Linked DNA regions of Homo sapiens. The protein of the gene in region 1 purifies or fractionates together with the protein of each later gene. This does not show direct contact. Each region holds a gene or a part of one and is shown on either strand. Other genes may lie near its edges. The genes, in order: TOPORS, PML, DDB2, DHX15, SMARCC2, HNRNPM and UPF3A.

The links.
Region 2: the proteins of TOPORS (region 1) and PML purify together in Homo sapiens (affinity purification with western blotting; 2 studies listed by BioGRID, with this or other methods). This does not show direct contact.
Region 3: the proteins of TOPORS (region 1) and DDB2 purify together in Homo sapiens (affinity purification with mass spectrometry, with the first as the bait; one study listed by BioGRID). This does not show direct contact.
Region 4: the proteins of TOPORS (region 1) and DHX15 purify together in Homo sapiens (affinity purification with mass spectrometry, with the first as the bait; one study listed by BioGRID). This does not show direct contact.
Region 5: the proteins of TOPORS (region 1) and SMARCC2 purify together in Homo sapiens (affinity purification with mass spectrometry, with the first as the bait; one study listed by BioGRID). This does not show direct contact.
Region 6: the proteins of TOPORS (region 1) and HNRNPM purify together in Homo sapiens (affinity purification with mass spectrometry, with the first as the bait; one study listed by BioGRID). This does not show direct contact.
Region 7: the proteins of TOPORS (region 1) and UPF3A purify together in Homo sapiens (affinity purification with mass spectrometry, with the first as the bait; one study listed by BioGRID). This does not show direct contact.

What each region holds. Positions count from the first base shown.
Region 1 is NC_000009.12:32,540,044-32,542,586, forward strand, and holds the end of TOPORS (E3 ubiquitin-protein ligase Topors), read right to left. Parts: coding exon 1,344-2,543; 3' UTR 501-1,343; downstream 1-500. UniProt on the Homo sapiens protein: Functions as an E3 ubiquitin-protein ligase and as an E3 SUMO1-protein ligase. Probable tumor suppressor involved in cell growth, cell proliferation and apoptosis that regulates p53/TP53 stability through ubiquitin-dependent degradation.
Region 2 is NC_000015.10:74,018,716-74,022,215, reverse strand, and holds part of PML (protein PML), read right to left. Parts: intron 1-3,500.
Region 3 is NC_000011.10:47,221,474-47,224,973, reverse strand, and holds part of DDB2 (DNA damage-binding protein 2), read right to left. Parts: intron 1-3,500.
Region 4 is NC_000004.12:24,553,555-24,557,054, forward strand, and holds part of DHX15 (ATP-dependent RNA helicase DHX15), read right to left. Parts: intron 2,857-3,500; coding exon 2,697-2,856; intron 1,390-2,696; coding exon 1,171-1,389; intron 1-1,170.
Region 5 is NC_000012.12:56,179,484-56,182,983, reverse strand, and holds part of SMARCC2 (SWI/SNF complex subunit SMARCC2), read left to right. Parts: intron 1-904; coding exon 905-980; intron 981-1,148; coding exon 1,149-1,280; intron 1,281-1,386; coding exon 1,387-1,502; intron 1,503-1,882; coding exon 1,883-2,007; intron 2,008-3,500. UniProt on the Homo sapiens protein: Involved in transcriptional activation and repression of select genes by chromatin remodeling (alteration of DNA-nucleosome topology).
Region 6 is NC_000019.10:8,465,475-8,468,974, reverse strand, and holds part of HNRNPM (heterogeneous nuclear ribonucleoprotein M), read right to left. Parts: coding exon 3,460-3,500; intron 2,741-3,459; coding exon 2,587-2,740; exon of another isoform or gene 2,361-2,586; intron 1,474-2,360; exon of another isoform or gene 1,441-1,473; coding exon 1,391-1,440; intron 202-1,390; coding exon 141-201; intron 1-140. UniProt on the Homo sapiens protein: Pre-mRNA binding protein in vivo, binds avidly to poly(G) and poly(U) RNA homopolymers in vitro. Involved in splicing.
Region 7 is NC_000013.11:114,302,101-114,305,600, reverse strand, and holds part of UPF3A (regulator of nonsense transcripts 3A), read right to left. Parts: intron 813-3,500; coding exon 684-812; 3' UTR 1-683. UniProt on the Homo sapiens protein: Involved in nonsense-mediated decay (NMD) of mRNAs containing premature stop codons by associating with the nuclear exon junction complex (EJC) and serving as link between the EJC core and NMD machinery.

The DNA.
Region 1 (2,543 bases):
GGGAGGCTGAGGCGGGCGGATCACGGTCAGGGGTTTGAGACCAGTCTGGCCAACATAGTGAAACCCCGCCTCTACTAAAAACACAAAAATTAACCGGACATGGTGGCGCGTGCCTGTAGTCCCAGCTACTCCGGAGGCTGAGGCAGGAGAATCGCTTGAACCCGGGAGGCAGAGGTTGTGGTGAAGTGAGATTGCACCACTGAACTCCAGCCTAGGCAACAGAGCCAGACTCCAACTCAAAAAAAAAAACAACAACAACAACAAAAAAAAAAACCCCAAAACTTAGTGCAGAACCTGCCACATAGTAGGCACTGCAATTTCTACTGAATAAAGAATGAATACAGTAGCAAGGCAAAGGCAAACTGAAGGCTGAATTAAGATTTAACTCAAGCTCCACTGTTCAGTGGCAATCCTACATCAGCATAGATGTAATTTTATCATCCCTAAAACAAGATAAAACATAACCACTTTATATGAAAGAACTACCAATGTAAAAGAAGTATGACAAGGGTTTTTCATGTTTATTTAGCAAGTTAAATGCTGTTTTTACTGATGATAGAAAGCAAATAAGATACTCCTCAAAATCAAAGAAAATAATTAAAACTATAAAGTATTTGTTCACCTGAAGTTCAGTATTTATGACATAATTATGCCCTTAGCTACTTTCAAGATTTTAACTTTACTAAAATAAACTTTAAAAAAAAATACTGCATAGGAAAATGTCTGATTCTTGTTTTAAAGTGTTACTGTTTTATTTTTTTTCTTTTGTTGAATACACATTTGTTTTACTGGCAGTCCAGATAAACAAGTATATAAAGGAAATAGTAAATTTTTATTTTGGCAGAAGATAAACTGTGCAGATTAAAATGCCTCAATTTAACCTGAAGAAATGGTTTTGAATCATATAAATTTTTAAGAAGAAAAATAAAGACTGTCCAAAGGGATTCTCCTAGCTTATAACACATTTCCAGAATAACTCTCAAAAAAAAAAAATTCAAAAATACTCATTGACTACCTTAAAAATATGTCAATACCGTATGGCTTTATGAAATAACTTCTAAAATTTATATAATTTTTCTTATTTAAAAAGGACCCCAAGTTTTAAATAAGCTGCTAGCAGTATCATTTTCTTCACTTAAAAGTGCATATCTTTGAGGGTGGGACATACATTTTGAACAAATAATGATTTTTACAAATTAACACCAAAAAAAAAATCATTTAAAATATTGTAAGGAGGAAGAGAGTTTTCACCAAATGTCATCTTTAAATAGACTGCAGTAGACGACATTCTTCCTTTTTCCTTTTTATAACATCATAATTCTCAATGAAATGCTTTGGCAGTTTTAAGACATATCACAGTCTCTACCAAGACATACTGACATTAATGATGTCCGTGGCGATGGCAATTGCCTTGATGGCTCAGTTTGAAGAGACACAATGTTACTGGGCTGGTTCTCCAAATCAGAAACAAAGGTGCTCTCTTCTCTTACATCGAGAGTTTGTTCAACTGAAGCTGCCAGAGGTGGAATATTATCTACAGTTTTGTTGGCATTATTCAAGTTGTTACTAAGTGTGGCAATATCACATTCCTTGTCCAGCACACCAAATTCAGCTTCTATTGTAACTACATCTTTAGTTTCAAATGGTTCCAAGGAAGGAGCCAAAAACTCATTTTGTAGAGGGTCTTGAGGACCACTATTGTCACATTCTGTATCCTCCTTTACTTCAGAATCCTTATCACTGTCACTGTCAATGGTAATTACAACTGGGGAACGTGAAGCATTATCTCCATGGTGTTTCTTATGCTTCTTCTTATGTTTCTTCTTTTTCTTTTTATGGTGTTTAGTTGTATCAGTAGCTTTTCCTTCATAAACTATCTCTACACTTAGGCTCCGGGTCTTCCTTTTTCTCCTTTTGTGTTTTGTCTCTCTGTCTGATGATCGGCTGTCTGAAAAGGTATCACTCTCATTTTTGTAGTTTCCATCCAATTTTGATGAAGATTTTTGGTAATGACTGTCCTTTGCTTTAGAAGCAAATTCACGAGATGGCTGAGCCACTTCGTTAGTACCCTCCAAATGCCGTGTTTTGTATTTTCGTTTCCCTCCAGGCTTTTCATTTCTCACCCGGTCAGTCCCGGTAGATGCAGTCCTTGATCTGTTACTAGACAGGCTCCTTGATCTGTGCCTTTCATAGTAGTAATACTTCCTCTCACTGTGATTATTTTTTTTCCTAGCATTTGTTCTTTCAGAAAAGGACTGAACTCTAAATTCTGGACTTGAAGACTGTCTAGAATAATGAGCTCTGGACAGAGTCCTCCTCCTGTAAGATGATTCGTACCCATCCCTGTCCTTGTTTCTACTGTAATAAGTATACTCCCATTTGTATCTGCTTCCATAATTATTTCTTAAATAATAACGATCTCTATTTCTGCTCCGTGATCTTCTTTTACCATGATCACTGCTACGAGACCTTGATCTGCTTGTGCTTTCACTACTTAGAGACAGAGTTTGGCTTCTTCTGGACCAACTGCTATCTCTAGTTCT
Region 2 (3,500 bases), on another chromosome or scaffold:
GGAGGCCGGGGCGGGAGGATCACCTGAGGTCGGGAGTTCAAGACCTGCCTGACCAACATGGAGAAACCCCGTCTCTACTAAAAATACAAAATTAGCCGGGTGTGTTGCCGCATGCCTGTAATCCCAGCTACTCAGGAGGCTGAGGCAGGAGAATTGCTTGAACCCGGGAGGCGGAGGCTGCGGTGAGCCCAGATGGTGCCATTGCACTCCAGCCTGGGCAACAAGAGCAAAACTCCGTCTCAAAAAAAAGAAAGAAATAAATCAAGTCATATAATTACTTTGAACTTCCTCCTCTCAACGAACTTTCACTCAGAGCATTCCTCTAGGTGCATAGGCACAGATCAGATGTATTCTCTTTAATAGCTCTGGTATATCCCAGATGGGCCACAATTGATTCAATCACTGTCGTTTTGCTGGCATTCAGGTAATTTCCTGTTTGTGCATTTTCTTTCTTTCGTTTTCCTTTCCTTTTTTTTTTCTTTTGGTGCCAATATGGACAACACTTTAGTAATATCCAAGTTATATAGCCTAATCATGGAAGCTTTTGTTCCTATGAAATAGATTATAAATATAGGCCTGCTAGATCAAAGTGTTTGTATTTTAATATTTTTATTTGGTTATTTTTTTTTTGAGATGGAGTTTCGCTCTTGTTGCCCAGGCTGGAGTGCAATGGCACCATCTCAGCTTACCGCAACCTCTGCCTCCCGGGTTCAAGCAATTCTCCTGCCTCAGCCTCCCGAGTAGCTGGGATTACAAGCATGCGCCACCACCCCGGCTAATTTTGTATTTTTAGTAGAGACGAGGTTTCTCCATGTTGGTCAGGCTGGTCTTGAACTCCCGACCTCAGGTGATCCACCCGCCCCAGCCTCCCAAAGTGCTGGGATTACAGGTGTGAGCCACCGTGCCTGGCCTGGTTAATATATTTTAGCTAGCAGATACTTCCATAGCATTTATTGTGTCTCAGATACTATTATAAGCATTGGCAAATATTTACTCATTCAATCCTCCTGACAATCCAGTGGAATAGATACCATTATTATCCCCATTTTAAGGATGAGAAAACTGGTGCAAGAGGCAAAATAATTTGTTCAAGATCACACGATTAGTAAGTGGTAGAGTCTAGATGCAAACTGTAGTAGCAGAATAGTGGCCTCTAAAGATGTCCACGTGCAAATTCCTGAGACCTGTGAATATGTCACCTTACTATGGCAAAAGGGTCTTTGCAGGTGTTATTCAATTAAGGACTTTGAGATAAAGAGATTATTCTAGATTATCTGGGTGGGTTCAACGTAATCACGTGAATCCTTTCAAAGGAAAGGGCAGGGAGGCAGGAGAATGAGAGGAGATGTGATGTGATGAATGCAGAGGTGGGAATGTTGTGATGTTGCCGGCTTTGAAGACAGAAAGGGGCCATGCACCAAGGAATGTGGGCAGCCTCTAGAAGCTGGGAAAGGCAAGAAAACGTTCTCCCTGAGAGCCTCCCAAAGGAGCAAAGCCTGCTGACACCTTTATATACCTCAGTGAGACCTGTTTCAGACTTCTTACCTCCAGAACCATAACAGAATACATTTACATTGTTTTAAGCCCCTAAATTTGTGGTAGTTTGTTACAGCAGCGAAAGAAAATATAAAAACCCAGGCAGTCCAGCTTAGAGTCCATGTTCTTAACCATTACAAGGCTGCTTCTTCAAATATTACCAGGGAAAATACTGTTAGTTCCCCAGAAATATTGCTGTAATTTACTCTCACCGGCAGTGATAAGAATAAGTCTTGGTGGTGTGCGCCTGTAATCCCAGCTACTTGGGAGGCTGAGGTGGGAGAACTGCTTGAACCCAGGAGGTGGAGGTTACAGTAAGCCAAAATTGCACCACTGTACTCCAGCCTGGCCAACAGAGCAAGACTCCATCTCAAAAAAAAAAAAAAAAAAAAGGAATAAGTCAGCCCACCTGAGGCCAGAAGAAAGGGTCTCATCTGGGACTACACTGAGATCAACTTGTTCTGGAACCACCAACAGAGAGCCTACTAGCCAGCCAGACTGATACATAGTGCTCATCAATGCTACGTTTAATTAGAAATACTAAGCAATTATGAAAAGAACTAATAACTCTACAGAAGGCAATTTGGCAATACCCATCAGAATTACAAATGCATTTAACCCAGCAATCCTCTTTCTTTGGATCTGCTCTGCAGCTCTATCTCTACACATAACAAGATGATATCCATACAATATATTCACTGCAGCACAGTCCACAATAGCAAAGAATTAGAAGCCACCCACGTGTCCCTCACAAGGCAATTAGTTACATAAATTATGATCCACCCATACAACGGAATACTATGTAGCTGTAAGCCATTGAGGAAGCTCTTTATATACTGATAAGGAAAATTCTCCATGGAGAAATGAGGTTAATAATAGGAGTACTGGAAGGATTAAATGAGTTAATATATGGATAAAAGTTTGAAAAATGACTGGCATACAATGAGTGTTCAATAAATGCTAACTATTTGTATTATTATGATATATATTTTAAGTTAGAAATCAAGGTGCAGAAATGTGTGTATCAGATGCTACCTTTTGTGTAAGAATGGGGAAAAATAAGAATATCTTCATAGTTGATTGTATTTGAATAAATAAATATTAAAAGGACATGCAAATTAATAAAAGTGGCTATGGGATGGGTGGAATGAGGGTAGAGTAAGACATTCACTGCATACCTTTTTAGATTATGTTTGAGCCTTGTGAATGTATGAATGTATTCCTTTTTTTGAAATTAAAAAACAGAATACTAATAAATGTGGGCAATTCTATAGGGTATAGGAATAAAGGGAAGAGAATAAGAAACAGTTGTTATTTTCCCCCTTTGGATCTTGGACACTTGGGGAGAGGGGCTGTGTCTGATGTTGGATCCCCTTCCTTGGAGACAGGGTTCCAAGCCTGGAAGGGCACGCCTCAGGCAGCCTGGCTGGATAGAGAGCAAGACGTTCTGGATGGCCATAGCCTCCGCTGGGTCCTTTTTCTAAGCTTCTTTTGTCCTGAATGGGGTCTCCCTAGGGTGACTGGCCCCTGCTTTCCCTCTAGATGGAAATGGGCGGCAAGTGTCTGTGAGGTGGCTAGCCTGAATCAGACACCTGGGTCTAAAAGCCCCCAGCCCTCTGGTAAGACTGAGGTGCAGATCCTGAATCAAAGGGCTGCCACCCAGGGCCAGGAATGACCTTAGCCAAGCGGTTCCTTTACCTTCATTCAGAGGACACTCACTGAGTACCTGCTGCGTGCTTGGCACTTTGGAGGAGGCAGAGGTGAAGTGGGAAACTGCCCAGAAGGGCTCCGTGACAAGAACCCAGACTTAACCGTATCTTCAGAAAGGCGAAATAACATCTATTTGCTTCTGGAATACTCAAAACAATAAGCAAAAACACCACTAACTTAATAAGAAATTGCTCACCAAAGTGGCTAGATTACATAATAATTAAGAAAGAAAAATAGCATAATTCTATCTTAGC
Region 3 (3,500 bases), on another chromosome or scaffold:
AGAGTGAGACCTCATCTCAAAAAAGAAAGAAGAGGAAATAATAAATATGAGGAGAGAAATGGAAGACATGAAAAAAAATCCAAATTAAACTTCTAGAGGGGATATACAGTATCTGAAATGAAAAATACGCTGGGCTACTTTGCCTATGGAGCAGCCCTGCTCTGCACAGGCAAGAAAGAGAAGAGAAAAGGAAGAGGAAGAGAAGAGAGAGAAAGGAACGAAGGGAGGGAGGGAGGGAGGGATTGACAGCAGAAGGTTAGATATTACAGAAGTAAAGATCAGTGAACAACTGCACAAAATGAAACAGGGAAAAAGACAAAAATGAACAGTGCATCAACCACCTGCAGGACCATATGTAATCGCAGTCCCAAGAAAAAAAGAACTGTTCTTTTTCTTCATTTTGAACTCTTTGTAAGAAATAATGGGCTGGGCAAGGTGGCTCACGCCTGTAATCCCAGCACTTCAGGAGGCCAAGGTGGGCGGATCACTGGAGGTCAGGAGTTCAAGACCAGCCTGGCCAACATGGTGAAACCCTGTCTCTACTAAAAAAATAAAATAAAAATAAATAAATACAAAAATTAGCCAGGTGAGGTGGTGGGCACCTGTAATCCCAGCTACTCGGGAGGCTGAGGCAGGGAGAATCGCTTGAACCCTGGAGGTGGAGGTTGCAGTGAGCCGAGATTGTGGCACTGCACACCAGCCTGGGCGACAGAGTGAGACTTTGTCTCAAAAGAAAAAAAAAATCCATAAATCAAAGAAGCTTAGTGATCCCCCCACAAGCACATCATAATCATTTTTAAAGCGACCAGAAGAAAAATTACATAGACAGGAACATAAGGATAGTAGCAGACTTCTCATCAGGATGTTTTGTTTTGTTTTGTTTTTAATTGAGACAGGATCTTGCTCTGTCACCCAGGCTTGCCTAGCTCACTGAAGCCTTGTCCCCCTGGGCTTAAGCAATTCTCCCACCTCAGCCTCCTGAACAGCTGGAACTACAAGTTCAAGCCACTAGCTAATTTTTAAGATTTTTTTGTAGAGATGGGGTCTTGCTGTGTTTCCTAGGCTGGTCTTAAAGTCCTGGCCTCAAGAGGTCCCCCAGCCTCAGCCTCTCAAAGTGTTGAGATTACAGGCATGAACCATTGAGCCCAACTAGAAATCATCTTTATTTTTATTCTTTATTTATTTATTTATTTTAGACGGAGTCTTGCTCTGTCACCCAGGCTGGAGTGAAGTGGCCGATCTCGGCTCACTGCCAGCTCTGCCTCCTGGGTTCACACCATTCTCCTGCCTCAGCCTCCCAAGTAGCTGGGACTACAGGCGCCCACCACCACGCCTGGCTAATTTTTTTTGTATTTTTAGAACAGACAGGGTTTCACCGTGTTAGCCAGGGTGGTCTCAATCTCTTGATCTCGTGATCCGCCTGCCTCGGCCTCCCAAAGCGCTGGGATTACAGGTGTCAGCCACCGCGCCCAGCCTTATTTATTTATTTTTGAGACACAGTCTTGCTCTGTCACCCAGAATGGAGTGCAGTGACACCATCTCGGCTCACTGCAACCTCTGCCTCCCAGGTTCAAGATTCTCATGCCTCAGCCTCCCGGGTAGCTGGGATTACTGGTGAGCGCCACCACACCCAGCTAATTTTTGTATTTTTAGTAGAGGCGGGGTTTCACCATGTTAGCCAGGCTGGTCTAAAACTCATGATCGCAAATGATCCACTTGCCTTGGCCCCCCAAAATGCTGGGATTACAGGCGTAAGCCACAGCGCCCAGCCTAGACATCATCTTTAAAGTACTGACAGGAGAAAACTGTGAACAAATATATTGTATGCAATAAAATACAATTTTAATTTACCAATTAAAAAATAAAAGTTAAATAATTTTAAAAACTGTGAACCTAGAATTCTATACTTAGCAAAAACATCCTCCCTCAAAATAAAGGCAAAATACTTTTCTAGATAAACAACAGTGGAAAGTATTTATCACCAATCTGCATTATAAGAAATATGAAAGGAATTTCTTCAGGCAGAAAGAAAATATTACCAAAAGGAAATCTGGATCACATGAAAGAATGAAAGCACTGGAAATGACAATATGTGGGCAAATAGAAAAACCTTTTCTCATTTAAAAAGTATCTTTAAAACATTCCTACTCTATAATCCAGCCATTCCACTGCTAAGTATTTACCCAAGAAAAATGAAAACATATATCCACACAAATACTTGTACGTGAATGTTCACAGTCGCTTTATATGTTGCATTCAAAAACTAGAAAAAAATTCAAATGTCCTTGAACAGGTAAATGAATAAACTGTATCATATCAGTACAATGTGGCTGGGTGCAGGGGCTCACGCCTATAATCCCGGCACTTTGGGAGGCTAAGGCAGGAGGATAGCTTGAGGCCAGGAGTTTGAAACCAGCCTGTGCAACACAGTGAGACCTCTGTCTCTATAACAAAATTTTAAAATTAGCCAGGTATGGTGGCCTGTGCATGTAGTGCCAGCTACTCAGGAGGCTGAGGTGGGAGAATCGCTTGAGCTGAGGAGGTTGAGGCTATGCTGAACCATGATCATCCCTGGGTGACACAGCAAGACCCTGTCTTAAAACAAAAAACAATGAACCATTATTCAGAAAGAAAAAAAAAACTACACATAAAAATGTAGATAAATTTCAAATAATTATACTGAAACAAGCTAGAACAAAAATAAAAGACCATATATTCTATGATTCTATTTATATATAGTTCTAGAAAATGTAAATTAATTTCTAAAAATAAAAAATAGATCAGCAGTTTACAGTGAATAAGATATTGGGTAGAGAGGGGTGGATTACAAAGGGGCATAGATAACTCATCTATCTATCACTCTCCAAATATTCAACAAAGGGTGGGGAAATGGGAGTTATTTTAATTGTGGTGATGGCTTCACAGTTGTACACATATGTCAAAACTCATGGAATTGTACAATTTATTCTTTTTTTCTTACTGCTTCTCTGGAGTAGGACTACCCCATAGGCTGAGAATAGCCAAATTGTACACTTGAAATAGCTGCAGTTTATGTCCACTATACCTCAATAAAGATATAATTTTAAAAACCCAGGCCGGGTGCAGTGGCTCGTGCCTGTAATCCCAGCATTTTGGGAGGCCGAGGCGGGCGGATCACTTGAGGTCAGGAGTTCGAGACCAGCCTGGCCAATATGGTGAAACCCTGTTTCTACCAAAAATATAAAATTCAGGCTGGGCACGGTGGCTCACACCTGTAATGCCAGCACTTTGGGAGGCCAAGGCAGGTGGATCACCTTAGGCCAGGAGTTCAAGACGAGCCTGGCCAACACGGTGAAACCCCGTCTCTACTAAAAATACAAAAATTAGCTGGGCATGGTGGTAGGCTCCTGTAATCCCAGCTACTCAGGAGGCTGAGGCAGGAGAATCATTTCAACTCAGGAGGCAGAGGTTGCAGTGGGCCGAGATCGTGCTACTGCACTCCAGCCTGGGCAATAGAGTGA
Region 4 (3,500 bases), on another chromosome or scaffold:
CCTGAGGTCAGGAGTTCGAGACTAGCCTGGCCAACATAGTGAAACCCCGTCTCTACTAAAAATTAAAAAAAAATTAGCCAGGTGTGATGGTGGGCACCTGTGATCCCAGCTACTTGGGAGGCTGAGGCAAGAGAATCGCTTGAACCCGGGAGGCAGAGGTTGCAGTGAGCCGATAATCATGCCACTGCGCTCCAGCCTGGTTGACAGAGCGCGACTCTGTCTTCCCTCCCCACCCCCAAAAAGAAAAAGAAAAACCCTTTCGTAAAAGGCTTTTTAAAACTTTGTATTATCCAAATAGCTTCTGAATTTATTTAGCCACTCAGGTATTCCACAGCACACCTATAAACACCCTATTGAAAAGAAGCTTAGAAACGCTACATCTGGCCGGGTGCGATGGCTCACGCCTGTAATCCCAGCACTTTGGGAGGCCGAGGAGAGTGGATCACGAGGTCAGGAGATTGAGACCATCCTGGCTAAAACGGTGAAACCCTGTCTCTACTAAAAATACAAAAAATTAGCCGGGTGTGGTGGCGGGCACCTGTAGTCCCAGCTACTTGGGAGGCTGAGGCAGGAGAATGGCGTGAACCCAGAAGGCGGAGCTTGCGGTGAGCCAAGACTGCACCACTGCACTACAGCCTGGGCGACAGCGCAAGACTCCGTCTCGAAAAAAAAAAGAAATGCTACATCTGAGAATAAAATTTTAAATGAAGTAAATTCTAACTAAGAACTTTTAGTAATCCTTCCCAAATTTCATGAGCATATGGGAAGACAAAACCAAACTGAAGTGTTTTGATGATGAATAGGCACCCAAGTTCACTCACAAGCTAAATACTGATGAAGATAACCTGATTTCAAAGCAGCTGTGATGCACATTCATGCTTCAGCATAATAGCACTTATATCCCAGGGATCTCTTAAACTACAATTGCAAAATCTTGAAATTCCAAAAGCATTTAACACTCTTAAAATAATTATAACACAAACTCTAGTGGTATACAGAAGTATTCCTACAGTATGCAGATAAAAGGGGTTATATATTTTACATATTAATACAATCAGGTTGAAGAACATTGAAATAAAAAATATGATTAACATGTTCTTATGATTAAGGTTGCTGCATATTAGAAACAGTATGTCAAAAGCTAAATAATGAAGAAAATTAAAACAATACCTCTTGACCAGTTAAGAAAAGAAGAAGATCTCCCTCTTCCTCTTCACACATATGAATCTGGATAACTGTTCGAATTGCTGCTTCAAGATAATCTCTCTCTGGTTCTGGAGTATAGAAGATCTCAACAGGATGTGTACGCCCAGGAATAGTTAGGAGAGGACAGTTATCAAAGTAAATCTGGAATTTTCCTGCATCTAGAGTAGCGCTCATAACTATAACCTGAAAGAAAACAGTAAATTATTTGAAGCTGTCTTCAAGGATTCTTACATGGTCTTACAGTATAGCAATATTTACTATTCTACATATATCAGCTATAAAAATGCCCATGAAAACCTTCAAATAAACTGTAAATGAAAAATCAAATACATAATGGCTGAACTATAGTAAAAGTTATTTACATTTTTAAAAATTTAGAAAAAAAATAAATGCACAAACTACAGCATTTCTTCATAAAATACCTTAAAATCAGATTTTATAAAATTATATGTAATTCAGATTGCTAAAAGAAAACATTAATATGCAGTATAATTATTGCTACCATTATTAAAACAAAACTTTGCAAATAGGAAAAAACAGAAAATGCAAAAAAAAAAAATAAGTGGACCAGATATAAAAAGGTTCCTCCATAAAAAGTTTCATAAGAGTTCTTAATTTCTACTTTCAGGTTCTCACTAAAACCTTGGTAGCACAATAAATTTAATAAATAATGATAGTACTCACATTATTCTTTAAATATATTTTTTAAAGCATTGATCTAATTTGTATAAACAAAAACATGCTCAGGCCTCAGTTTTTTTTCTAAAGACCCAGAATCTTTCTTGCCAGTGTTGAACCCTTGTTTGTTTGTTTGTTTCTGCTAAGAGTCTCACTCTGTCACCAGGCTATGAACCCTTCTATAACACTTGTATCAACAAGGGATGAGTCTACATTCCAATGAATAGTATACACACACAACACAGCAAAAAGGGGAACATCATAGACTTTGGGGGACAAAAATGTCAGAAAATAGTTTTAGGCCCTTAATCAATACAGTAACAGGGGCCAAGGTACATGTGGTATGGAGGAAAGAAGTAATACACGAGGGTAAGTGACTACATTTCTAAGGAGCTGCCTGTCCTGTGTATAGTTATTTCCACTCTCCAGCATTATAAGTTACAATGGGTGTTTGTGATGAGACAAGGACATGGATCTGAGGGAGAAAGATTTGATCCTTAAGTAAAATAAGCCTCTGTACTTAATGAAGGGTACAGTGAGTAGCACAGTTACACATATATGTTATTAGATTATAAAAGAACTAGGTGGGTTACAAATTGAGAAGATTGGGCTTAAAAATGCATTACTATAAAGGGGGAGAAATAAAGTCTAAAATGAAAGCACAGCAAAGCAGAAACAAAACAAGAAGGTACTTACTAGTTCCTTCTTTTACAGGTGATTTCTTACAGTTGGTTATTGATCAGTATGTATTCCCCATTTTTATGCCCACATACACACATATATAGTTAAATGGAGAGAAGAAATTACTTCACCTTTAAATCTGATCTCTGTCTTACAACTTCCTTCAGAACACCCATTAGAATATCTGTAGCCAGTGTCCTCTCATGAGCCTCATCAAGAATTATTACACCATAACGCTCCAGGAGGGGATCATTCATAGCTTCACGAAGTAACATCCCATCAGTCATATACCTATATTCCAAAGAACATGTTGGTTAAAGGTTCCGTTAGGTCATTTTAAAACCAAACTTCGTGACAAAAATGAAATGCAAAGACATAAGGTAAATTAAAAATAAACTTCTGCCCCAAACAAATGTGCTACTGTTTCATGATCAATTGCAAAATTAAGTTTCAAGAAAATCTTTTAAGAGTATACAATGAAACAAGATATGCTTCATCAATTCTTGAAAAATGTAATACTGAAATGTACTGGGAAGACATGATATGACCAATTATGGAACATAATGATCACATGGTTTCACATGAATGCCAAGGCAAAATTCGTCATTTTCAATTTCTTAAACCTTTTAAAAACATACAAATATTCAACACGCAAAATCTAATAAACCATTTTAAGTTGCTTCATGTCACACCACTAAAATGTTACCACATGCAAATAAACATTTTTTGTTAAGCCTTAACAATTCCTTACTTAATAAGCTAACAACAGGCTCTTGGTTCAAAAGGGCTGAAAGCGTGAGTCCTCCCACCCCAAAGAAATAATCTTAAAGCACAAAAGGAATTCAATAATAAAAGAAGTGGGACTGAGGGGCAGCATCAACACTAAACAAATGCTGATACATAAATGGAAGATAAAAACAAATGACGTCAGATTG
Region 5 (3,500 bases), on another chromosome or scaffold:
CATGCACCTGTAGTCCTAGCTACTTGGGGGGCTGAGGTGGGAGGATTGCTTGAGCCCAGGAGGTTGAGTCTGCATTGTGCCATGATTGCACCACTGCACTTCAACCTGGGCAATAGAGCAAGACCCTGTCTCAAAAAAAAAAAGCATGTAAAATATCATCTAGTATGGTTATGATTATGTAAAAACATCATCTAGTATGGTTATGATTATGTAAAAAGAAAATTGTGGACCAGGCACAGTAGCTCACTCCTATAATACTAGCACTTTGGGAAGCCAAGGCAGGAGGATCACTAAAGGCTGGAAGTTCAAGACCAGCCTAGGCAGCAAAGTGAGACCCTGTCTTAACAAAAACAAAAACCCCAGCTGGACGCGGTGTCTCATGCCTGTAATCCCAGCACTTTGAGAGGCCGAGGTGGGTGGATCACGAGGTCAGGAGCTTGAGACCAGCCTGGCCAAGATGGTGAAACCCCGTCTGTACTAAAAATATAAAAATTAGCCGGGCGCAGTGGCAGGCACCTGTAATCCCAGCTACTCGGGAGGCTGAGGCAGGAGAATCGCTTGAACCCGGGAGGCGGAGGTTGCAGTGAGCCGAGATCGCGCCACTGCACTCCAACCTGGGTGACAGAGCAAGAGCAAGACTCTGTATCAAAAAAAAAAAAAAATTACTGTGGAGGAAAAACAGATATACAAGTATCAAGAGTAGTTACGTAAGGGTGATTCTTTTTGTTCTCTATTTTTGAAATGTTTCGTAATGTGCTTTTACTACTTTATAATGAATAGAATACAAAAAAAATAAGCCAAGAACCCAATACTTTCTGTAAATGGAAAGGGTAAAAGATCTGCACTTTACTTTTCCACAATTCTATCCCATTGATTCTACTGTGTGCTCAATTTCCCATGGCAGTTACGACACGTGGATCCCAGCGAGTGAAATTGAGGCATCTGTGGAAGATGCTCCAACTCCTGAGAAACCTAGGAAGGTGAGCTTTTCTTGTATCCCCTCTTCCCCAAAAAGAATGCCAGGAACAGTCTACCCTTTGGAAGTGAAACAGAGGCTTGTATGCCCTTGAGCTTTTTCTGTTAAGGGTCCCCAGACAGAGCTGTGGCTTCCAGGCTTCTCTGCAGCATGATCTGCCTTTGTACTTTAGGTTCATGCAAAGTGGATCCTGGACACCGACACCTTCAATGAATGGATGAATGAGGAAGACTATGAAGTAAATGATGACAAAAACCCTGTCTCCCGCCGAAAGAAGATTTCAGCCAAGACACTGACAGATGAGGTGACAAATCCTGTTCTTTTTTTCCTGGCGCCCTTAGCATAAGTCTCAGAACAAATCTTCAGTGGGGATTGTAGGCTGACATTTGTCCTGATTCTCCATCCTATAGGTGAACAGCCCAGATTCAGATCGACGGGACAAGAAGGGGGGAAACTATAAGAAGAGGAAGCGCTCCCCCTCTCCTTCACCAACCCCAGAAGCAAAGAAGAAAAATGCTAAGAAAGGGTGTGCCAGCCCCTAGCCTGCCCCCGTGTTCACCATTCTCTCCACATCATGTTGAAGGAAGGAAAGACAAATCCCTTCCTATAACCACCTGGCCCTGACCTGGGTGTGCCATAATACTGCAGGTGTCCTGAGAGGGAAGATGAGGAGATCTTTAGCTGCTCAGTTGTTAGTTCTGGTTCTGGCCCCACTAGTACATTTAAAGAGAGCTTTATCAAGTGAAAAGCCTTTGCCACTTCCCATTACTGTGTGATTACTGGTTTCTGTTTGTACTCAGCTCTACCCTTGGAATTCTCTGTCACTTCCCTTCCCTTGAACTTCAACTTCCAGGGACTCCTTGTCCAAGGATGACTGGGTTCTCTTTCACTCTCTTTCCTTCCCAGTCCCTCAACACCTTACACTAAGTCAAAGCGTGGCCACAGAGAAGAGGAGCAAGAAGACCTGACAAAGGACATGGACGAGCCCTCACCAGTCCCCAATGTAGAAGAGGTGACACTTCCCAAAACAGGTACAGGCCAGGCTGAGCTCCTGGGATCCACCCCCACTCCCCGTCTTGACTCTCCTTTGCCAAACCCCAAGTGAGCTGATTTCTCAGGTCCACCTCCCAGTCTACAGGATCTTTTCCTTAAATTTAGCTGGTTATTGGAATTACGGTCATTACCCTGGAAAATCCTCTAACTGTATATTCATATCTGAGTTGTGGACTGTGCTTTGTGCCTGATAGTAGTTGTCTCCAAACTCTTTGATTATGTGTTTCTGACAGTAAAATATATTTGAGCATGGCCAGGCACGGTGGCTTATGACTGTAATCCCAGCATTTTGGGAGGCCGAGGCGGGCGGATCACCTGAGGTCAGGAATTCGAGACCAGCCTGGCCAACATGGTGAAACCCCATCTCTACTAAAAATACAAAAATTAGCTGGGCGTGGTGGTGGGCACCTGTAATCCCAGCTACTCGGGAGACCGAGGCAGGAGAATTGCTTGAACCTGGGAGGTAGAGGTTGCAGGGAGCCGAGATTGTACCACTGCACTCCAGCCTGGGCGACAAGAGCAAAACTCCATCTCAAAAAAAAAAAGGGCCGGGCACGGTGGCTCATGCCTGTAATCCCAGCACTTTGGCAGGCCGAGGTGGGCGGATCACGAGGTCAGGAGATCGAGACCATCCTGGCTAACATGGTGAAACCCTGTCTATACCAAAAATACAAAAAAATTAGCTGAGCGTGGTGGCGGGTGCCTGTAGTCCTAGCTACTCAGGAGGCTGAGGCAGGAGAATGGCGTGAACCTGGGAGGCGGAGCTTGCAGTGAGCTGAGATCACGCCACTGCACTCCAGCCTGGGCAACAGGGCGAGACTCCATCTCAAATAAAAAAAAAGAAAAAAAAATGTATATATGCATTAATTATGTACTTGTACTGTTAAGCCGCTACCATGGGAACGTTTTAAAACACAAACATATCTAAAAAATTGAAAAATGTAAAGAATGATAAAAACAAACATGAAGAATCAGGGCGCGGTGGCTTACGCCTGTAATCCCAGCACTTTGGGAGGCCGAGGCAGGCGGATCACGAGGTCAAGAGATCAAGACCATCCTGGCTAACACGGTGAAACCCCATCTTTACGAAAAATACAAAAATTTGCCAGGCGTGGTGGTGGGCGCCTGTAATCCTAGCTATTCGGGAGGCTGAGGCAGGAGAATCACTTGAATCTGGGAGGTGGAGGTTGCAGTGAGCCGAGATCGCACCACTGCACTCCAGCCTGGGCGACAGAGCGAGACTCCGTCTCAAAAAAACAAAACAAAAAACATGAAGAGAAGTTCTGTATTCTCTCCCTGAGTTGCAGTGGATCATCTTTTGCGTCCTATGTTAGAACCCCACTTTGGAGACATTGCTCCACCAATACTGGTTTACAGTCTGTATTCTGTAGACTCACCCCAGGTATTCCAGAAGTGTATTTCAGGGGTAGGATTAGGGCTGCCACCAAGAAGAGTTCTGGCTTCTACCTCC
Region 6 (3,500 bases), on another chromosome or scaffold:
CTGAAAAATCTATAGAAAAGAACTGGCCAAGAGAACTGAGGGCTAACCTGGCACAGGTTCAAGTGAAACCATATGGTAATTTTCTGTTTATTAGTGTAACTCCAATTCAAACTCTCAGCCCTAATCACTGAAACACTTACGGGGAAGTTGTTGTGGACGCTCAGGAGGGAAGAAATCTCCTTTTGGTAAGGCCCTCTCATCCTGAAAGAGAAAGAAAACAAACAAATCTCAGTATCCAGTGCAGCAGTGTTTGCAACAGCAAAAGACTGAAATGGCCCCCCATCAAGAGAGGACCAGCTAAACACATTATCCACGCCATGGAGTAATACGCAAGGGTAGAAAGGCATGCGGAGCATGCTTCCTATTTTATGTCAAGGGAAAAGACACATGGATATTATTGTGGGGGATGATGGGGACCTGGGCAAGAAGTCCAAGTAGGACTCACACTATCTTCACACTACCTTTTCATGCCTTTTGACTTTTGAGTCACGTGAATCTATCATCTATTCAAAAAACTTACCTACTCTATTTAGAGTAATGAAAAAATTGCTTTATAGTTTATCTTTTTCCTGAATTTGAGTCCCAACTAGACTGCCCTCAGCATGTTCCAGTCATGCCTGTAGTAATTATTATCTTTGGCACAGTTACGGCAGAGCAAATGTTTATTAAGATTGAAGTGCTCCAACAGACCTTTAAAAGCTGTCTGAATCAATGACTTAATTATGTTCACAACAGATTTGATGCTAACCAAACATTATACTGTAATACTTTGAAAAACTGGAACCCCACATATATAACCATTCTTTGAAACGGATCACTTGCTCAACCAGGATACCCAGGTGACTTCCTGAATGCGCCATGAACAGTCAACTGTGCAAAAGGAAAAATATCTAATGCAGTCAAGAGCTGCCATGAGCAAAATGTTTTTTTTTCTTCTTTTTTTTTCTTGAGACAGAGTCTCACTCTGTTGCCCAGGCTGGAGTGCAGTGGCACGATCTCGGCTCACTGCAGCCTCTGCCTCCCACGTTCAAGTGATTCTCCTGCCTCAGCCTCCCGAGTAGCTGGACTACAGGCGCGTGCCACCACGCCCGGCTAATTTTTGTATTTTTAGTAGAGACGGAGGAGTTCCACCACGTTGGTCAGGCTGGTGTCGAACTGCTGACCTCATGATCCGCCTGCCTCAGACTCCCAAAGTGCTGGGATTACAGGCGTGAACCACCACGCCTGACCAGCAAAATGTTATTTCTCTCACAATTTTGCTCAACATACTGCACCCTATTTAACTTAGACTAATCCACAAATATTTCATAGTGGCTATATGTACACTCTTATTAATTCCATGTTTTTGCTAGACTTGAGTATATCACAGAGAAAGATCCTACTGACTTACCATCTTGACGTGCATTGGTCTATCAAATAGCAGCTGGCCATTGAACATAGCTGGTATTACAATTAAGGCTATTTCTTGCAATTCTAAAAATGTGCACAAGAGAAATACAAAAAGAAAGAAAAATACTCCAACTGCTACCAGTCCCTCTAAGTGATGAATTTATGAGCAATTTCAATTCTTCATTATACTTTCAACAATAAACATAAAAGGAACAATAAATAAAGCTGGCGGGGAGGACAAGACAACTTCCGCTTATTCCTTAGGTGTGAAGCTTCATTCGTAACCTTACAATTTCACCAAACCATCCTCTTAAGCAGTGGCATCAAGGTTCTCTGAATGTGACCAATGGGCCAGGCATCTACCACTATCTAAACTGAAGGACCATGTTTTCTGGGTAAGACATGCAGTGACGGTCTTGTCTGAGTTGTATGAATGTGCTCCTGTGGGGTACTCTCCAAGGGATTAAAAACTCTAGGCTAAGCCTAGGGTCAAGGAGAAGTGGCCTCTTCCAAAATGATGTCTACTCACTGGAAAGAGTGAGGTCCTATAAGGATGTATTACACATGAAACAACAACCCCACTTTCTCTCTAGTAGCACATTCTTTGGACTTCCTCCTTCAAACCTAGACTCTTCTGAAAAGAAAACAGTAGAAAGACTCATGGGCATATGCCCATGTTGTAACCATCCCCTCTATCCACACTGTATTGAATCAATTCCACCCCCAGAGAACCTTTTTTTTTTTTTTTTTTTTTTTTGAGACTGAGTCTCACTCTATCACCCAGGCTGGTGGTGTGCAGTGGCGCAATCTCGGCTCACTGCAACCTCCACCTCCCGGGTTCAAGCGATTCTTGTGCCTCAGCCTCCCGAGTAGCTGGGATTACAGGCACCCACCACTGCGCCCAGCTAATTTTTGCATTTTTTAGTAGAGCCGGGGTTTCACCATGTTGGCCAGGCTGGTCTCGAACTGACCTCAAGTGATCCGCCCGCCTTGGCCTCCCGAAGTGCTGGGATTACAGGCGTGAGCCACCGTGACCGGTCCGGCCCAGAGAACCTCTTAATTCCACAGTAATGCACTCCCCCTAGTCACATAAAAAACATGAATACACACAGTCACCTCTTCCTCACACAAACCTACATTACTAACACAGCAATTTAGGTCAAACTGTTCATAAGTTGAATTCCTGCAGAAGGATACATATAGCTTGCACAGCTTCAATGGACTGTTCAAAAGTAACAGTGCCTATTCCACGACTTTTTCCATCTTTATCTTCAAGAATGTCTGCTCGGACCACCACACCAGCCATACTAAATACTTCCTTCAGTTTCTTCCAGCCAACTTTATAATCCAGCTAATCGAGAGAGAACGGGGTAAAAACCTCAATGTAAACATCTTAAGAAACACAACATTTTTACTACATGAATGATACATGCTTTGGTTGGAAAAAAGTATTAGGAAATAATGTCACAAAAACTAATCAACTGCAATGGAAATTTTAAAATAGGATTATAAAGCCTGGCCTTCACTGTAAATAAACTGTACCTATAGTAAATATATTGTCTCTTTTCTCAGAAACTTAAGTCACCTCATACTTCAAATTAATACTCATTTTCTGAACATTTTTAAAAAATTGTTTCCCTGATAAGCTTTACCACTCCCCACCCCACCCAACCTACTTTATTCTAAAAATATTTCCCCTTGCAGATGGTGGAGGTATTATCATTCACCCCAGACACAACAAGAGGAAGGTGTCAGTGCACTTCTGCTCGTACAGTCTTACTCTGCACCAAAACTGCATAAAATAAACCAACGGAGAATGCAGACTCGGTTACTGCTTGCGGAAACACCTGCGAAACTCAGGAATCACAGCCCCAACGAGACCACGGTCAAGCCTGTGACTTAGGAATGCAGACAAAGCCCGCCTATAAGGCTGATTTTTAAAGAAATCAAGAACAAAACCCTTCTTTACATTTTTCTTCTCAAATGTGAGAATTACTTTTATAACATATTGACAAGGTCATTTCATAAAGTTCTGATTTTCTACTTTAGACGATGGTTCTGTTTACTTACATTTGCTACAAATACTGTGCTTCCAAGTCTTCCAGCCTGTA
Region 7 (3,500 bases), on another chromosome or scaffold:
TATTTGGGCAAATTCTTAAACCATGGTTTAAACCGTAATGGTTACAAACCACAAACACATCCATCCAGAGACTGAAACCGTTTCTATCCGGTCAGTGGCAAAACTGTTGAAAGGGCAATAGTTGAAGCTGTTGGGTTTTATATAGTGTGAACTCTGATAAATATTCCTACCAGGACTAAAACACAGCACGCTTTGCGGGCATGGCTGACTCACAAAGGTTGTAACAAACAAGAACTACTCTTCACTCGACACCATGGCTCAGAGGCCACCGAGAAGCACGAGTGACTGACAGCTCCTCTGCTTACAAACGAATGAAACCCAAAGTGGATGTCGTTCTCACAGCACTGAAAGTGCTTCAGGACTCACACTGATCCAATACTAACTTTCTTCCCTATTTTACACATATTTTTCTACTGTCCAGTGGAAATCATTTTCTGTTTTGGCTAAACAACAAATACTAGTTTATAACAGGAATGGTAAAATCTGTGAGAATTCTGCTCAATTTAATACAAGATCACTACTTTCTTTAGAATGGTTTCTGCGTGTTTCTACGTCACCCTCTGTATTTTTAGCTTCCAGTTTCCTGGTAAGGAATAAGTTCTCCTTCCCAGTCACACTCGGGGTCATTTACACGTTTCTGGGATGCCCTTGCTCGTCCATGGAGGCCAGGTGCGTGCAGTGACTCACTCTGCCTCTTCCCTCTTCTCAGGACCAGTCCCCGAACCTTCTGCCTTGCAGATCCTCCTGTTTCCGCCACACTCTCGCGCTCGGAAGCGAGCTCCTGGATCATACAGCTGCAAGGCTGGCCGGTCCTGCCAGGATAAGAGGGCATGTTACTCTTCCAAGAGGTAGCAACACAGAAGGGTCAATATCTCCCTATATTTCTAGAACTTGATGATATGAATTGTCCAAAGAAAATCAACTAGGCAGCTAAAAATCAGCCCTTTTTTCACAGCACTATCTCAGAAACCAGGCATTCTAAGGCAATTAAAAAAGCCATGTAAACACTGGTTATCTGGGCAAATGTTATTGCTCAAACAAGAACATGTAATCTGTGGGAACAGTACAATCATGACGTCCCCCTCTGAGTTGGGAAGTGAACAAAATGAGATGTGGACCCTCACAGATGGTTTCAGATCTGCCAACTAAAACTTATTAACGTGAGTAGTAAGCAATTTCCATGGGGCTTATCCCTGCCTAGCATGTACCAGCAGGGAGACTGAACTGGTCCCTTTTTAGAAGACATCACCCCATCATTTTATTAAACTCCTGGAGGTGAAGCAATAAAAATGACCCATGAAGTCCATGAAGGGCAGCTGTTGAGGGCCTGAAGAAGGCAACAGCCAGGGAAGCATAGAGTGGCCCTGAAGGCTAGTGTCAGCAGCGACAGCAGCACAATTCCTCCTGATGGGGCCACCAGCCCTGCCCCAGCACTGAAGGGGTGGCAGAGGAGGAAGGCGGCTTCCAGCTTCCGTGAGCCTCCTGCTCCACGCGCCTCCCGCTCCCTGCCTATTCTCCCTGCAGAGCTGCAGCCTTAGCCTCCAACAGCCACCAGGAGCCCAAGTGTGGGCTGCAAGGACGACCATGTGGGTACATCTCATGCGCTCCTTCTCCAGGATTCACCAGCTCACCTCTACCTCCTCCTGGACTGTGTGTGGAAGCCCACATCTGCTTACCACCAGGGGGTTTAACTTAATTTTCTTTTCCTTGGTATGAACCTGACCAATGGGAGGGGTGGGAACAGGCTCAGCAGGCCCCTGGACAGGCTGCCTGGAGCCAGCACGCATAGCTCTGTTTGTTTTTCTTTTTTTTCTGAGACAAAGTTACACTCTTGTTGCCTAGGCTGGAGTGCAATGGCGCAATCTGGGCTCGCTGCAACCTCTGCCTCCTGGGTTCAAGTGATGCTTCTGCCTCAGCCTCCTGAGTAGCTGGGATTACAGGCATGTGTCACCATGCCCGCTTAATTTTTGTATTTTCCGTAGAGATGGGGTTTCACTATGTTGGCCAGGCTGGTCTCGAACTCCTGACCTCAGGTGTTCCACCCGCCTTGGCCTCCCAAAGTGCTGGCATTATAGGCATGAGCCACCGCACCGGGCCGACAATTCTGCTTCTTACCAGGGCAATACCTGTATACACAGATGGAGCATGGAGCCTGACCTTAGAAGTACATGACAAATGCCAGGCTCCCGGGAAAGTAGCTCCTGCACACAGCGCCTCATTCCCACCACAGCACTGTGAGGCTAAACACAGGAGCAAATGCTCCCCCACCTCAGGTCGGGGGAAACACCAGGCCATTCACCACTGCTAAAATAAGCCAACTGAAGACTGAGGACTCCTATGAGCAACGCCCTATCAAAAAGACGCATGGCTGTACTTTGTGCACCCCGAGGTCCAGGCAACCCCAGAGAACTGGAGTATTCTAGAGGTGTTCATTCAAGGGTGAAGACAAGAAGGCTCTCCTCTGGCTTTCAGCCTTGACTTCACTGAAACTTTTTTTTTTTAGAGGTAATTTTGCTTTTCTTGCCTAGGCTGGAGTGCAATGGCATCATCTTGGCTCACTGCAACCTCCGCCTCCCAGGTTCAAGCAATTCTCCTGCCTCAGCCTCCTGAGTAGCTGGGATTACAGGCGCGCCACCACGCCCAGCTATTTTTTGTATTTTTAGTAGAGACAGGGTTTCGCCATGTTGGCCAGGCTGGTCTCGAACTCCTGACCTCAGGTGATCCACCCGCCTCAGCCTCCCAAAGTGCTGGGATTATAGGTGTGAGCCACCATGCCCAGCTACACTGAAACAGTTTCAAAGTGAACATCGTTCATACACACAACAACCTGGAAGGATCTGAAAGGAATTAGACTGAGTGAAGAAAGCCACTCTCAAAGCTCACATACTGTGTGTTTCCATTTATCAAGCATTCTTGAAATGACAAAATCACAGAGGCAGAGAACAGACAGTGGCTGCCAGGGGTTAGACATGGGGAGGGAGGTGAGTGGGAACTGGAACCCTAGGCAGCCCTCAGTTTGCTAGGAGGCCAGGGTGGGGCCTGGTGCTGTCAGAAAGGTGATGCCATCTGTAGTGCTGCGCTGGGAAAATGCAACCTGAACAAAAATTAGCTCCTGAAAAAAAAAAGTTGTTTGCTTGGCTAAGGGGGTAACCACAGTCCTGTGCTCACCGTCCGTGCAGATCTAACTTACAGGTGTTTGTGAGCCATGGGAATATTCACCAATAATCAGAATGTTGTTAATAATGTGGAAGAAACCTCCATGAAATATCATTAAAACTTTCCTTCCTGTCTCAAGGGTAAATTTAATAATCTTATTCTCAAGTGAATCATATAAACGTGCTAGTTTTATACTAAATAAAATCTTTCTTTTTCCTGGTGAAAAATAATTTGATTATCTGAGAAAAGATGATGACTAGTCTCACTCTGGGATCTGACTTTCAGGAAAAACTGCTCTTGAAAATGCTCAAAGCACTGCGTTCCCCAAGACACAAGGCCAAGTG